Linked DNA regions of Homo sapiens: region 1 is reported to be linked to region 2. The links are microRNA targets in miRTarBase. Many come from high-throughput screens and were not tested one by one. Region 2 holds a microRNA gene; the other region holds the end of a gene's coding sequence.

Region 1 (3,000 bases), not on the chromosome of region 2:
AAAAAAAAAGTTTATAAGAGATTCCAGACTAATGTGAAATTTTATTATTAAATAAATGCAAATTCTATTGTAATTTGACCCCGCTGTTCATTCTGTGTTGTTCTCTCTTGTTAGTGGTGGACTTGCTTTGTGAAGAGACAGTTCATGAACAAGAGTCTTTCAGGACCTGGACAGTGAAGGGAGCCCGGGCAGCCACCGTCTCCAGAGCCCTGGGCAGCATTTTCCAGCAAGATGTACACAATCTTTTGCCTTTATTTCGTAAAGTTTTATACAGAAGAGAGAAGAGCATGTCTTTACTTGAAAAACTCTTGATCAAGAATTTGGGTGGGAGAAAAGAAAGTGGGTTATCAAGGGTGATTTGAAATTTTCTGCAGCATTAAAGCTGGCGCTTAATAAGAATAAGTAATAATAAAGAAATTTCTAACATTCCATGTCAGAAAAACTTTATTGCCAGTCTTTGACATTCACTTACAATTTGTTTTGAGATAAAATTCACATTCCATAATGCCCTTTTAAAGTGTACAATTCACTTTTTTTAGTATATACATGAAGTTTTACAACCATCCCCAGTAAATCCAGAGCATTTTCATCACCCCGGTGTAGTGAACCTGCACTCTTTAGCAGCCACCCCACCCCACATTCCTCCCCAAGCCCCCTGTCCCTCCCACCCCTCCTCCCAGTATTAATCTACTTTCTGTCTCTATGGATTTGCTTATTCTGGATAATTCATGTAAATTGAATTTTTTATACAACATGTGGCCTTTTATGTCTAGCTTCTTTGACTTAATGTTTTCTAATTCATCCATGTTAGAGCATATATCAGTGCTTTCTTTTCTCTTTTTCTTTTTTTTCTCTCTGTGTATATGTATGAAATAAAATATACTAATATGGCCAGGCGCAGTGGATCACGCCTGTAATCCCAGCACTTTGGGAGGCCCAGGCGGGCAGATCACCTGAGGTCGGGAGTTTGAGACTAGCCTGACTAACACGGAGAAACCTGGTCTCTACTAAAAATACAAAAACCAGCCGGGCCGGGTGCGATGGCTCACGCCTGTAATCCCAGCAATTTGGGAGGCCCAGGCAGGCGGCTCACCTGAGGTCAGGAGTTTGAGACCAGCCTGACCAATATGATGAAACAATGTCTCTACTAAAAATACAAAAATTAGCCGGGCATGGTGGCACGCGCCCGTAATCCCAGCTATTCGGGAGGCTGACACAGAAGAATCGCTTGAACCTGAGAGGCAGAGGTTGCAGTGAGCCGAGATCGCACCATTGCACTCCAGCTTGGGCAACAAGAGCGAAACTCCATCTCAAAAAAAAAAAAAAAAAAAAAAAAAACTCAGCTGGGCGTGGTGGCGCATGCCTGTAATCCCAGCTACTCGGGAGGCTGAGGCAGGAGAATCGCTTAAACCTGGGAGGCAGAGGTTACGGTGAGCCGAAGGTTGCGGTAGGCTGAGATCGCGCCATTACACTCCAGCCTGGGCAACGAGTGAAACTTCGTCTCAAAAAAAAAAAACGGCCAGACGCGGTAGCTCACGCCTGTAATCCCAACACTTTGGGAGGCCAAGGCGGGCGGATCATAAGGTCAGGAGAATCGAGACCATCCTGGCTAACACAGTGAAACCTCCGTCTCTACTAAAAAAATACAAAAAATTAGCCAGGCGTGGTGGCGAGCGCCTGTAGTGCCAGCTACTCAGGAGGCTGTGGAAGGGGAATGGCGTGAACCTGGGAGGCGGAGCTTGCAGTGAGTGGAGATTGCACCACTGCACTCCAGCCTGGGCAAGAGAGTGAGACTCCATCTCCAAAAAAAAAAAAAAAAACCTAGAGTTTATGGTAGTACTTGAATGATTAGAGTATTTGCATTTTGTTTTTACGGGTGAATATATGATTTTAATATGTGGGTTAAATGCTCTTGAGCATCTGTTTAAAGACTTGAATTACAAGCTAGCTAAATACCACAGTTCACACAGCAAAAGGAATGGATATGTGAAAACCTACTCCATAGATAAACAGAAGGACAGTCCTGAAGCCAAAAGAGTGGTGGTGGTGTGTCGTGGGGGGTTTTGTTTGTTTAATTAAAATTTGTTTGTTTGTTTGTTTTTGAAACAGGGTATCACTGTTGCCCAGGCTGGAGTGCAGTGGCATGAACACGGCCCACTGCAGCCTCGACCTCTTGGGCTCAAACAATCTTCTCGCCTTAGCCTCCCCAGTAGCTGGGACTACAGGCACACATCTCCAGGCCCAGCTAATTTTGTATTTTTGGTAGAGATGGGGTATCATGTTTTTTTGTGTTTTTTGTTTTGGTTTGGTTTGTTTTTTGCTTTTTTTTTTTTTTTTTGAGACTGAGTCTCTCTCTGTCTCCCAGGCTGGAGTGCAGTGGTGCAATCTTGGCTCACTGGAACCTCTGCCTTCCAGGTTCAAGCTATTCTCCTGCCTCAGCCTCCTGAGTAACTGGGATTACAGGCTTGTGCCACCACGCCTGGCTAATTTTGTATTTTTAGTAGAGACGGGGCTTCACCATATTGGCCAGGCTGGTCTCAAACTCCTGACCTCAAGTGATCCATCCACCTCGGCCTCTTAAAGTCCTGGGATTACAGGTGTGAGTCACAGCGCCCAGCAAGACAAGGTTTTGCTGTGTTGTCCAGGCTGGTCTCAAACTCCTGGACTCAAGTGATCCACCCACCTCAGCCTCCCAAACACTGGGATTACAGGCATGAGCCACTGCACCTGTCCTAAATTAAAATTCTTAACCCAGAATCAGAGTTTTGGTGTTTGGGTTGGAACTTCTGCCACAGGGGTTACAGACATGTCAGAAAGGAGAGAAAGCCACCCTGATTCATTTCAAGATTACAGGTTTGGGGCCAGGCCTGGTGGCTAGAGGTCGAGGCTGCTATGAGCCATGATCGCACCACTGCACTCCAGCCTGGGCGACAGAGTTGAGACCCTGTCTCAAAAAAGAAAAAAAAATTTTATTTTAAACATATCACCACGTTGGCCAGG
Region 2 (3,147 bases):
GTGAAGGCCAGGCCAGGGAGGAGAGGCAGGAGAGGGAGCCAGGACCGGGACCGAGGGCGGGGTCAGCCCGGGCAGAGGCACCTGGCTCGAGGCTGTCCTGGGGGAGCTGGCAGCAGCTCCAGCCCTGCCTGGAGGTGGGAGCAGGGATCTGTAGCCCCACTGCAGGCAGGGCCTGGAGCAGCGCAGGCAGTGCCCTACCCGCTTACTGCAAGAGAAGTCACCCCTCAGGCCTGGGGTCCAGGAAGCCCTTACCCACTAGAGGCCATCTGGGGTGGGGACCCAGGACTAGGTAACTACCCAGAGGTTGAATGCCTGGGTCAGACTGAGTTTGCTGATCTTCCGCACCCTCTAAGTACACACACTCAGGGAGGAGCCCGAGACAAGAGAAGGGAACAGAGAACCCGAATCCGGGCTTGGGCGGCTGCCGCTTGGCCCCTGTAGCCTCTGTGCCTGCTGACATGACAGCAAGGAGACAGGTTGTCAGAGGGGCCTGGGAGAGCGAGGGAGGGCCGAGGTAGGGGTTCTTATCCTGGAGCGCTCCCTCCTTGCCCTCTTTTCCTGTCTGAGTTCTGGAATGTACTGATGCAGGGGGCTCTGGCTTGAGCTAGAGGGGGAGGGAGTCCTCCGCAGGGGCTGCAGGTCCAGGGATTCCCCAGGGCCTGGACTTACATGTGCCCATGCTGCAGACAGAGCGGGAATGGCAAGTGCACCTGCGCCCCCCGCCCCTCCTTACCTCCAGATGCCTGCTGGAGGGGGAGTTGGGGGTCCAACAGAGTCTGGGGCCAGGAGGGCCTTGTGGGAGCCAGCTGGGGTGAGGACAGAGCCCGGCTCTGAGAGCCCTGGGGCCTAGTAGAGAAGGGGTGCTCCTTCCCCACTCCTCACATGGGTGGGAAGGCGCCCTCAGGCAAGAAGACTGGGACACAGGTACACTCGCCAGGGACCATCCTTCACTCTGCAGCCTTTATTCACTGATGGGATTCTGCCCCAGTCCCACCCCCGTGGGGGCAGGATTTAGAGCAGGAACCGCCCCTCCGGGTCCTTTCCTGGGGCCTGTGCCAGGCTGAGCAGACTCAGGAGGCGTCTCTCCGAGGGTGTGGGCTGTGATGGGGCCCTGTGCACCCATCCAGGCTGCCCAGACCAGGAGAGCACAGGTCAGCCGGACACATGATGGTAATGGGCTGGGCAGTGGGAGGGAAACGTGCCTGGGGGAGGGGGTGGCAGGTGCCAGCTGAGCTTCCCGGTGACACACCCTGGGCTCAGCTGAGATGGGCTCAGCTGTGACGGGGCACCCAGGCCAGGCTGGCTGGGCCACAGGAACCGAGTGAGCTGGTCCAAGACTCAGGACTAGGGCTCAAGCACTCCTAGGGAGGAGGGTGGGTGGCGTCCCCCGCCGGCTCCTCCTGTGCCCCTCCCTCGCGAGGTCCCGGCGGACCCACTCCCCAGCCCCCACCACGCAGACGGGAGAGGCTGACGAGAGGCATGGAGAGGTGAGGCCCGAAACACCCGTAAGATATGGGAGCTCCCCCCACCTGCAGGTTCTGAGGGGCTCCTCGGCGCCGTCAGCCACCTCTCACACCCCCTCACGGCCGCGCACCGGCCCCCGCGCCTCAGCCTCCCCCGCCGACCCCTCAGCCCCGCCCGGCCAACTCGCCCAGCCGGCCCGGCGACCTGCGTTGTTCCAGCTGCCCCAGCACAGCCCCCGTCCCTCCCTCCCTCCTCGGACAAGCACGGGAGTGAAGACACGGAGCCAGAGCTCGGGCGCCGGCCTGGGAGCCCCCGGCAGGCTGGACGCAAGGCGGGCGAAGGCCTGGGAGCCTCGGGCAGGCTGGATCGAGGCGGCCCCCTGAGGCCCGCTGCAGGCTGGACGCACGGCAGTCAAAGGCAGGAGGCCTCCCGCTGGCTTCCTTCTGCGGAGCTCCGGCCCGGCGCAGGCCGGGGCCACAGGTTGTGGTCCTGGACATGAGATGGCAGAGGCCGGCTCTGCAGAGTCCCCCTGCAGGGCGGCAAAGCAAGCCCCCTCCTGGAAGAATGCCAGGGGCTGGGGCCTTTCTGAATGGAGAGCAATGTGCCCAAGACCAGCTGTCATCTTAAATCTCCCCACCCAGGGGCCTCCCCACCCCCAGGGGCCTCCCCACCACTTCTCTCAGCTCAACACCTGGGGATAGAGAGGCCTCAGGCCAGGAGGGAACCCTCCCCATGTCCCTCTCCCTCTCCTTCCTGGCCTTTCTCCTCCTCCAACCCAGAGGGAGGCATTTTCCAACCTAGGGGGTGAGTCCCGGCAGCCCATCCCCTTCCCCCCGTGCAGGGAGGCATCTGGGCCCTTCCGGCCCACCCCTCCCTCTGGCCCTGGGGCTGCTCAGGTCAAGGTCACCGGGCCTGCTCCCCGCTGGGCCAGGGACTGGACCCTCTCTTCCCTGATCCCTGGGCTGAAGTTGCTGTAGCCGACCCATCCTTCCACAGCGCTCCCCTCCCTCAGTCACTGGGACACTTCCCTTCCCCAGTGCTCTGAGGATTTTTTTGGGGGGGAAGGGGATTATTTGTTTAATGGCAGATTCATCCCCCACCTCAAACCCAGAGTCTCCAGTTCCCAGGCTCCTGCTCCTCAGGTTAAAGCACAGAGCTCTTGCTCCCTGGCTCGTAGGCAGCTGCTGTCTCGTTCCATCTTCCCCCTCCCGATCCTGACGGTTCTGGACCACCCCACTCTGCTGCTCCTCACTAAGCCCCCACCAGCCTTAACTTTGGATACCTTTTAGGTCATGCATTCTCGTCCCCTGCTGACATGTCCCCACCCCGCAGTTTCCTCTTGGTCATCAGCACCTTCACCCCAAAGCTTTAGGCGAGACTCCCATCCTGACAGTGGCCCCCATCCCCAATGATGGACCCAGACCTCATTTGTCCAGACCCAGCCTGGCAGCTGCCCGTGACCAGTGGCTCTGGAGCCCTCCCAAGGAGAATGCAGAGAGATGATGGCGCCACGCCACGCCCATCCCTCCAGAAGCTTCCACGGCTCACACAGGAGGTGCAGACTGTAAAGCCGGCTTTATCCACCTTTACAGCCTCGTCCTAGACACTCAGTGTCAACAGACTCGAATGCCTAAGGTACCGGAATTTGGCGTGGACAGTCAGCCTGCATTGCCTCCCACGGTG

Evidence for each region. The annotated mature microRNA hsa-miR-149-3p reads AGGGAGGGACGGGGGCUGUGC and lies in region 2 at 1,691-1,711, opposite strand. An mRNA with a match to its seed (bases 2 to 7 or 8) in the 3' UTR can be bound and repressed. Matches are read on the target gene's strand: a 7mer-m8 pairs with bases 2 to 8, a 7mer-A1 pairs with bases 2 to 7 and ends in A, and an 8mer does both.
Region 1: the mRNA of ARPC3 is a reported target of hsa-miR-149-3p. The part of its 3' UTR that is shown has no 7-base or 8-base seed match.

The regions. Positions count from the first base shown.
Region 1 is chr12:110,432,332-110,435,331 of GRCh38, reverse strand. ARPC3 (actin related protein 2/3 complex subunit 3) reads left to right here. Exons shown (of 7, transcript NM_001278556.2): 7 at 115-509. The coding sequence ends at 177. Among named protein-coding and RNA genes, the nearest start is that of ARPC3, 17 kb to the left of the region's middle.
Region 2 is chr2:240,454,620-240,457,766 of GRCh38, reverse strand. It overlaps MIR149 (microRNA 149), which reads right to left and starts at 1,766; the gene lies at 1,678-1,766. The region is part of intron 1 of GPC1 (glypican 1); the gene reads right to left. It overlaps GPC1-AS1 (GPC1 antisense RNA 1), which reads left to right and starts at 1,067. Exons shown (of 3, transcript NR_161169.1): 1 at 1,067-1,170. RefSeq lists an enhancer at 1,816-2,466.